2 separate regions of the Homo sapiens genome follow, and region 2 is linked to region 1. Evidence: fine-mapped expression QTL. A gene starts in region 1. The other region holds a variant in brackets. All regions are shown on one strand. Distances are from middle to middle. Region 1 holds the start of SMIM43 (small integral membrane protein 43). Region 2 overlaps TRPC3 (transient receptor potential cation channel subfamily C member 3).

Region 1 (5,237 bases):
AGTTATGTTAAATGTTCTTGACTTTTCAAGTGCTTTAATGTCTAGCTCATATATATACAGTCTTTAAAAATAGATTTGGCACATAGTGATTGTCAGAACAGGGGATCGTCAGGGGATGGAGTAGCCAACATGTAGAAGCCTGCAACCTAGACCATTGTGGGTGTCAGAGTATTTGATCTAAGCCAAAAATGCATAAAGGTGGCCAAAATTGTGAGTTTGAAAGTAGTTCTAATTTGAGAGATCAGTCTATGTCAGGTCTTGGAAAAATGATGATTGAATAAATAAATAAACAGCAAAAGACAGCTCATCTACAGCTGTCAAAGTTTCAAAAGCAGAGTCTCTAACAAAGCAAGTGCAGGGCAGGAGATCAACAGCAGCAAGATCTAAGAGCAAATGTGAGTTACCTTAATTCCCAGAGCTTAGAGTCAAGTTCCAAGCAGAGGTTGAGTAATAGGAATAAATATTCATTGTGGCCTGGATAAATGGGAACTTGGTCATTAATGAATTTGATTACAAGGAGTTAATAAAATGGCCCTGGATACAAGATAGAAAGGCACCCCTGCTTTCTTAGGAACCTGAGTCAGTAGAACCAGCTGAGAGATTGGATTAATACTGAGATGGTAATAAACTACTCACCCTGACTTTTCAATAGTCTCTTGTTTAGGAAGAATGATGGGCAGGTTAAATTCATGGATACCAGTGGTGCTGCTAGGAAGATTAAAGGATTGTAAACTCAAGAAGGCAAGCATGTGGTTAAAATAATTTCCATTCTGGTTATTCTAAAGTGTGAAATGATTGTTTTCAATCCTTACAAACAACTATAATTGCTAATTAATTACTCCCACACTCATCTTCAATGTCCATATTAACCATACAACCTTTTAACTAAATGCCACTGCAGAGATATCAACCAATTAGAGAACTATTGTTCAAAGCACAATACAGAATCACTGCAGTTGATTCAGGGAGTTCAAACTGGGAATTCAAATCAAGTCTTACCATAACTCTGATAAAGAGGTGAGGATTTGCTCATACCATAATAATTAAAGTAAACCTCTTACTTCATTAAGAACAGGCCTATTTGGGGAGAGTGAAATAGAAAGTGGGAAATTATCTAATGTCTTGGGCCAAAATTATTCACCTGAGACTATTTTTCCTTTGAAGCATTAAAATAATTGTCTTACACTTCACTTTTATATTATCAACTTAGGCAAACTTTAGTATTTCATTGTTTTTAGCCTCTCTATATGGTCTTTGTGTCTAAAATTAGTATTTTCAATACTATAGTTATGACTTAGCTTATCCCACACTGACATGACTAAACCCAAATCTTCCCTTACTGAAGATTGAGTATATCTGCATCACATATTTCACCCCATGAACCCCCGCACTGTTTTTCAAAAGGGCCGAATGATTATTAAAAGTGCAAACACTCCTGACATCTCATTCAAATTTCCACAATCCTCTACTAAGACACTGATTCTTGCAATGAGTTAGGAGTCAGTTTGGCTTTGTGGATCTGGTAGAAGCTCACCAGATTTGAGTGGGAGAGTGCCCTTTCCTTCCTTGTACCCATTTCCCCCATCCTGAACCAACATGTTTTTAGGCCCTGGATCTTTAGAAGTTTAGTCATAACTAAGGCCAACGTGAAACCATGCGTCATCCCAACTTACCATTTGCAGAAAGCTTCCATCTCCCGTTGTTCCAGCCTTCTTTTTGCAGGCCCAAACTGTCATTGCAGCTGTGGTCCCCTGAGCACCAGTCAAGGGCAGCAGCTCGGCTCTAGAAAGAGAGATGACATAAATCTAGGGAAAAGCTACTGAAGGATGAAGATATTTCCCAAACTAACATTAGCGAGAGGGTACTTAGGGCATACTGGTACTCGAGTTTGCTCCTGCCCGCCCATCTTCTGCAAAAGCTCTAGTAATTTAACCTGAAACCACAGACCCGCCTCTCCGTCCTTTTTCCTGTTTCCCTACACTATGCAAACAGTACCTCTTTTAGCTGGCCCTCCATGCCATCACCCAAAAGGTCACGTACCGGCCAACCCTAAGGCATCTTCCAAATGACTCTCACTGTAACGTTCACCATCCGCTGTCCCAGATTCGAAACCTACCCTGCACGGCAATCCGCAAGCACTAACCGTGGTTGGTGGCTAGAATATGAGTAAGGATCACCGGGAGGAAGGGATTCCTCCCTCCAAATGGACGACTGAATCTTCTCTCCCCCACGCCCCACCCCAGCACCACCAGACGAACCCCATTTACCATCTCTCAAAGCGCAAAAATATTTAAAGCAATATTTAAAATACTTTAAGTGCGCCCCGTTTCCTCCTGCCACCCGTCCCAAAGCCCACACAGTCTTTCTCAAAAATGTGGATATTCAGGTTAACCTGCGATTTTGTTCGAAAGTGGCTAAACTGCATTATCCGAATAATTTACTTTTCCACTCCTTGGGTATAACTAAAATGCAGTTGGACAGAAAAGAGCTTGCAGTTGTCCAAAGTCATTCCGGCTCCAAAGGGCGAATTCTCTTTTCGCCATCTCTCCCAGCCCTGGAACAGCTTAGGGTCCCTCTCGAAGAGCACAGCGCCAGCCCAGACCCCATACACCCACCGTCCCTGGCACCCGAACGCGCTGCGAGCCCCGGGCCTCCCACAGGAGCGGAGACGCGGGTCCCTGCGCCTCACGCCGGAACGGACCCGTCAGAGCCGCCGAGCCCCGCACCTGGAAGCTGGGAGGCCGCGAGGACGGAGAATCGAGGCGGAGACCCAGCCCAGCGCCCGCGCAGCTCGGTGCCCTCCCGCCAGTGCCCGCACTCGGGTCACACCGCTTGCTCTCGGGAGAAGCCCCAAGGCTCGCGGTGCACCGAGAGGCGCCCGGGCTGGAGCGCCCCGGCCGTGTTGGCCACGGAGTTCTTCAGCTGCTTGATGACCACGAAGAGCAGGAGGAAAAGTAAGAAGAGCAGGAAGAAGAAGAGCGCCAGGTAGAGCAGCAAGTTGAGTTCCCACTCCATGCTGGAGGCGCCGGCGCTCGCTGGCCCTGCGCGCTCGGCGCGGGCTGCAGCTGGAGGGCGAGCGCGCCGCCCGCACACCCACCTCCCGCACTCCCGCCCCTCGCGAGGGCGTCCCGCTATGGGCGCCGACTCCGGGGTCCGTGCTTTGCCTCCCCCGGCTCCGAGGAAACGCGCCAAGGAGCTGAGGAAATCCGGCGCAGACTCTCCCAGCTGGCACCAAAGCCTTCCGCTTCGCCGAGATCCTCTCAGGTGCTCTTGAGGACGCGAGCGACTTCCCTAGGAGCGAACTTCCGCGGGCACGGACGCCAGAAGAGGTAACAGCTCAGTCTTCCAGGGGAGGTCGGGACTGGTGTTTTGTAAATGATTTAAAAGTTCCACCCCCAACATCCAGTAGGGTCCCTAGCTCCGCTGCGTTCCCAATTAATTTATTTCGTTATATCCCTCCGTTCCTGCTTTCCGAAAGGACAGGGGATGTCATGGCCCAGAGACCCAAAAGAATGAAAGGTGGCAGTGAAGATGGGGTCTGAAAGGCTATGAGATGATTTCGTGCTATGAGGTGTCTGAGTGAATTCCAGTTCGAGCTGTCTTGCTCTTCAGAGTAGCAGATACATTCAGTGTTGAGTGTACTTTTCTATGGACAACAGGTCACTTGGAAACGCATTAAGAATACAATGTATTTCAGAAGTTATATAGCACAAAGATTTCAAATATTGGCCTCAAATTCAGTTTATTTGGTGAAAAGAGGAAAACAAGTTTACTCAAAGTGTTTCTTGAGTCCCTAAAGCCTTTCTGTATCTGGTTGACGTGACCCAAAGCCCATATCGCGCAGCTTTAAAAGCTGTTCAGTGTATCTATTACTGCAGAACAAATTACCCCCAAATTTAGTGGCTTCAAACAGCATAAACATTGATCATCTCTCACAGTTTCTGTGGGTCCGAAATGTGGGAGCACTGGCTGGGTGATTCTGGTGTCGGGTTACTCATGAGGCTCCGTTCAGATGTCAGCCAGGTCTGCCTTCAGCTGAATGCTTGTGTAGAGGTGGAGGATCCACTTCCAGGGTGGCTCACTCACTGCTTGCCAGGTAGGGCTGGTTGTTGGTGGGAGGCCTCAGTTCCCTTCCATGGGTGCTTCCAATACAGCTGCGGGATTCCCCCAGAACAAGTGATGAAAGAAAACAAAGCAGAGGCTGCAGTGCTCTTTACCGCCAGCTTCAGAAGTCACGTGCCATCAGATCTGTAATATCCTACTGGTCACACAGGTCAGCCCTATTCAGGGTAGGAGTCCAAGGACACGAACGCCAAGGAGTAAGGATCACTGGGGCTCATCTTAGAGTCGGCTATGACAGCTGTTAATACAGCCAGCTATCATTGCCCATTTGTAGGCCTAACTTTATTTTATTCTTTATTTGTGAAGATGCAGAATTGCCTCCTGGACTGAATTCTGGGGATGAGGGCTGACAACATCCCAGATTGTAATAAGTGGCTGCTCCAGGGATGACAGGGGTTCAAAGAGACAGGGTGGTATGAAAACAGTCTGTGAACTGCAAGTCTCATGGACCCGATTCTAGTGTCAGCTCTGTCAGTGGTCACTTTTGCTCAGTGACTCTCAGTCCCCTCATCTGTAACATGCCTTGCTTATCTTTCCCTTGGATTTGTTGTGAGGCTCAAAAATGAGAAAATGTTAAATAAAAATGTGTTTTGCTATATAAATGTCAGATACTGTTATTATTCTATTACGAAGGGCCCCCAATGCTACAAGCTATTGTACAAAATTTCCAGGCCCTAGGCCTCTCCATCAAGCATCTTAGTGCATAAGTGAGAAGAATCTTTCTTTCATTTTCTCTTTGTCTCTCTCTCAATAACATTATATTGATCCACTTCATAGGCAGTGGTATGCTGGAGCTGGCTCGTAATGACTCACAGGAGCTGATTGTTAAATTTTGTAAACCAATTTTTAAATTCCAGCTATTATTAAAAGTTAAATTATATAAACCTACAATTATGTTAACAACAAAGGTAATTAATACTCCAAACTCATCACTTTCTAATTATTTTATTAGGTTGGTAAAAAGGCAATCACGGTTTTTGTCATTAAAAGCAAAAACCGTGATTGCTTTTGCACCAACCTCAGTACTACATTTCACTGCTGTCTATGCACTTGAGGTTATTTACATCTGTTGTAGCTGTGTGGTGAAGATGCTGCATAGTGGTATGTTACTGCGC
Region 2 (5,237 bases), 130 kb after region 1:
CAAATTAATCATAATTAATATAAATAATAAGGGGACTACTTTAAAATGTCACTGAATACACAAAAGACCTAATAAATCGAAAAGTATATCCTTAGAAAAGAAAACACAACATTATAAAGCATCAATTTGCCTTAACGTGATCAAAATAAAGATACCAGCAGACAAGCCCACCTTAAAATTCAAATAGAGAAATAAGGAAGAGGTTGGGTGCTGGTGGCTCATACCTTTAATCCCAGCATTTTGGGAGGCTGAGGCAAGTGGATCACTTGAGGTCAGGAGTTCAAGACCAGCCTGGTCAACATGGTAAAACCCAATCTCTACTAAAAATACAAAAGTTAGCTGGGTGTGGTGGCAGGCACCAGTAGTCCCAGCTACTCGGGAGGCTGAGGCAGGAGAATTGCTTGAATCCAGGAGGTGGAGGTTGCAGTGAGCCGAGATTGCACCACTGCACTCCAGCCTGGGCAAGAGAGGCAGACTCTGTCACAAAAAAAAAAAAAAAAAGAATGAAAGGAAAAATAATAGGAAATTCTGTAAAATAAAAACCCTGAAGTAAGGATGTGTATGTGTGTGTGCGTGTGTGCGTGTGTATGTACACACGTGCAAGAATGCACATGTATGTGTGTTTTGTTTGTTTGATTTTTGTCTTAAACTATAATAATTATGATAATGTGGTTCTACAGCATGAATAGATCAGTGGAACAGAATGAAAAGCCTAGAAATAAATTTATACAGGAATTTAGTAAATTATTAAAGTGGTATTTCAAATCAATAGAAAAGATAGATTATTCAACACACCCAACTGTATAATAATCTGGAAAGACAACATATTTGGATTCCCATCCTACAGGTTAAATGAAAATATATTCTATATGAATCAAATATTTTCAGAGTCCAAAGAAGTGAAAGAACTAAAGAAATATGAGTTAAAAATATTAAATAATCTCCTATGGGGGAAAAATCTTTCCAAGTAGGACACAAAACCTGACGCCATAAACAATTTGTAACGTTGACTATACAAAAATAAAAAAAGTTGTGAATGGGAAAAAATACTTTAAATATTAAAAAGACACACAATAACCTGGTAAAAAACATTCTTAAGTCATAACACAAAGGCTAATATTGTTAAAATATGAAGAATTCCTCTTCATTGATAACAAAAAGCCCTTCAAGTAAAGCAAATATATATGGAGACATAAGGATATATAACATTAAACATAAAAAGGAAGGTAAAACTCATTCATGATAAAGAAATGCAAAGCAGCACATTTTAACCTATCTGGTGAAGATAAAAACCTTTGGTAACACACTGTTTGTAAATTAGGGAGGAAATAGGTGCTCTCATATATTTATTGTAAGAATGTAAGTTAGTACAAGCTCCATCAGTTTGATAATAGCTAAAAAATTAAAATTCAAATATACTTTAACCAGACAATTCCATGTATTTGTTCATGATTGAGATGTTATATATACAAAATGACTTACTACAGTGTTGCTTATAATAGCTAAATATTAGCAATATCCTCTATTTTCATCAATAAAAGAATGATTAAATAAGTATAACCATATGATGGAATACAATGTAACTACCAAAAGTAAAACTTTAACTTTAAAAAGAGACAAAGAAAGGCATTATATAATAATAAGGGGATCAGCTCAGCAAGAGAATATACCAGTTATAAATATACATGCACCCAATACTAGAGCACTCAGATATATAAAGCAAATATTATTAAGTCTAAAGGGAGAAATATATCCTAATATAATAATAGTTGGGAACTTCAACCTCACTCTCAGCATTAGACAGATCATTCAGACAGAAAATCAACAAAAAACCATCAGATTTAAACTACACCAAGACCAATGGACCAAAAATATATTTACAGAACATTTTACCCAACAGCTGGAAAGTACACATTCTGTTTTTTTTTTTTTTTTTTTTTTTTTTGAGACAGTGTCTCACTCTGTACCCTAGGCTGGAGTGCAGTTGTACAATCATGGCTCACTGCAGTCTCAACTTCTTGGGCTCAGGTGATCCTCCTACCCCATCTTCCCAAGTATGTAGGATTACAGGCATGTGCCACTATGCCTGGCTAATTTTTTTCACTTTTGCAGAGACAAGGTCTCACCATGTTGCCCAGGCTGGTCTCAAACTCCTGAGCTTAAGCAATCCTTCTGCCTTGGCCTTCCAAGGCAGGTGTGAGCTACCAGACCCAACCCCAAAACATATATTCTTTTAATCAGCACGTGGTACATTCTCTATGATTGACCATATGTTAGGACATAAAACAAGTCTCAGGAACTTAATAAAATCAAAATTATATCAAGTATTTTATCTGACCACAATGGAATAAAATTAGACATCATAACAAAAGGCACATTTGAAACTATGCAAATACATGAAAATTAAACAACATATTCCTGAATGACCAATGAGTCAAGGAAAAAATTAAGAATGAAATTTTAATATTCCTTGAAATGAGTGAAAATAGAAATACAACATACCAACACCCATGCAACACAGCAAAAGCAGGATTAAGGGGCAAGTTTATAGCAATAAATGCCTACATCCATCAAAAAACTAGAAAGATTTCAAACAATCTAATGATGCACATAAAGGGAAAAAAGCATAAAAAATGCTTGAAAAAAGCATGCAAGAAAAGCATGAACAAATCAAACCCCAAATTGGTAGAAGAAATAATAAAGATTAGAGCAGAAATAAACAAAATTGAGACTAAAATAAATACAAAAAATCAACAAAACAAAGTTTTTTTTAAAAAGATAAACAAAATTGACAAATCATTAGCTAGAGTAACTTAAAAACAGAGAGATATGACTCAAATAAATAAAATCAGAAAATGAAAAAGGAGACATCACAATGGATAATAGAGAAATATGAAAGATCACTAGAGACTACTATGAATAACCATATGCCAATAAATTAGAAAACCTGGGAAAATAGATAAAATCACAGACACATTCAATCTACCAAGATTGAA[C/T]CAAGAAGAAATAGAAAATCTAAACAGACCAAAAACAGGTAACAAGATTAAATGAGTGCATAAAACATCTCCCAAAAAAATAAAATAAAGTCCAGGACCAAATGGTTTCACTGCTGAATTCTACTGAACCTTTAAAGAAGAATTAATACTAATTATTCTCAAACTAATCGAAAAAATTAAAGCAGAAGGAATTCTTCTTAACTCACTTTATGAGACCAGTATAACCCCAATACCAAAATAAGGACACAATAAAACTACAGGCCAATATCCCTGATGAACATAGATGTAAAAATCCTCAATAAAATATTAATAAACCAAATCCAAAATCACATCAAAATCCCACTTGATAGTGGGACTTATCCCAGGAATGCAAGGATGTTTCAACATACAAAAATCAATAAACATCATACATCACATCAACAGAATGAAGGATAAAAACTGTATGATTATCTCAACAGATGATAAAAGCTTTTCATAAAATTCAATATTCCTTTATGATAAAAAATCTTAATAAATTAGGTATAGAAAGAAAGAATCTCAATGTAATAAAGGCATACAACAAACCCACAGCTAACATCTTACTGAACTGGGAAAAGCTGAAAGGTTTTTTAGAAGTGTAACAAGACAAGGATGCTCACTATCACCACTCTTATTCAACATAGTATTGGATGCTCTGGCCAGAACAATTAGGCAAGAGAAAGAAAGAAGGGTATCCAAATTGGAAAGGAGGAAGTCAAATTGTCCCTGTTTGCAGACAACATGATCGTATACATTGAAAAACCTACAGACTCTACCAAAAAACTTTTAGAACTGATAAACAAATTCAGTAAAGTAGCAGAATACAAAATTAACATACAAAAATCAGTTGCATTTCTATACACGAACAACAAACTACTTGAAAAAGAAAATAAAAAAGGCAATGCCATTTACAATACTCAGGTATAAATTAACCAAGGAGATGAAAGACCTCTTCAAGGAAAACTACAAAACACTGATGAAAGAAACTGAAGAGGATACAAACAAAGGGAAATGTACCACATGCTCATGGATCAGAAGAATTACTACTGTTAAAATGACAACGGTACTCAAAGCAATCTACAGATTCAATGCAACTCCTATCAAAATACCAATGACATTATTCACAGAAATAGAAATAATATCCTAAAATTTGTAGGGAATCATAAAAGACCCCAAATAGCCAAAGCAATCCTGAGCAAAAAGAACAAATCTGGAAGTATCACACAATCGGACCTTAAAATATATTACCAGGCTGTAGAAACCAAAACTACACGGTACTGGCATAAAAAGACACATAAACCTATGGAACAGAATTAAGAACTCAGAAATTAATCCATGTGTCTATAACCAACTGAGTTTTTACAAAGATGCCAAAAACACTCATTGGGAAAAGGACAGTCTCTTCAATAACTGGTGCTGGGAAAACTGGATATCCATATGCAGAAGAATAAGACTAGACTCCCACTTCTCACCTTGTATAAAAATCAGGGCAAAATGGACCAAAGACCTAAATGTAAGACCTGAAATGATAAAACTAGTAGAAAAAAACATAGGAGAAATGCTTCAGGACACTGGTCTGGGAAAATATTTTATGAACAAGACCTCAAAAGCAGAAGTAACAAAAGCAAAAATAAACATATGGGATCATACCAAACCAAAGGCTTCTTGGTTTGGTTCATACCAACAAAGGAAAAAACAACAGTGAAAAGACAGCCTACAAAATTGGAGAAAATATTTGCAAATTGCTCATCCAATAGGGGATTAATATCCAGAATATACAGGGAACTCAATCATCTCAACAGCAAAAAAAAAAAAAAAAAAAAAAAAAAAAAAAAAAAAAAATTCCAATTAAAAATGGGCAAATAATCTGAACAGACATTTCTCAAAAGAATACATACAAATGGTCAATGATATATGAAAAAATGCTCGACATCACTAACCAAACCACAATGAGGTTATCATCTCACTCCAGTTAGAATGTCTACTATCAAAAAGACAAAAAAAAAATGCTGGTAAGAATGCAGAGAAAGGGAACTCTAATATGTTGTTGATGGGAATGTAAACTAGTACAACCATTATGTAGAACAGTATGGAGGATTTTCCAAGAACTACAAATAGAGCTACCATATGATCCAGCAACCCCACTACGGGAATTTATCTAAAGGAAAAGAAATCATTATATCAAAGAGACAACTGCACCCACATGTTTTATTGCAGCACTAT

The links. PIP is the estimated chance that this variant, and not a neighbour inherited with it, causes the effect. A credible set is the group of variants that fine-mapping cannot tell apart.
Region 2: its variant is the best candidate, but not a certain one, in a credible set for the expression of SMIM43 in blood mononuclear cells (TOPMed, PIP 0.81).

The regions. Positions count from the first base shown.
Region 1 is chr4:121,762,091-121,767,327 of GRCh38, forward strand. SMIM43 (small integral membrane protein 43) reads right to left here and starts at 3,074. Exons shown (of 6, transcript NM_001384332.1): 1 at 2,727-3,074; 2 at 1,674-1,782; 3 at 637-708. The coding sequence starts at 3,015. The coding sequence ends at 2,824. PP12613 (a long non-coding RNA gene) reads left to right here and starts at 2,495. Exons shown (of 1, transcript NR_024365.1): 1 at 2,495-4,718.
Region 2 is chr4:121,892,637-121,897,873 of GRCh38, forward strand. The region is part of intron 10 of TRPC3 (transient receptor potential cation channel subfamily C member 3); the gene reads right to left. Among named protein-coding and RNA genes, the nearest start is that of BBS7-DT, 25 kb to the left of the region's middle. The variant C/T (reference allele first, on the strand shown) is at 2,997.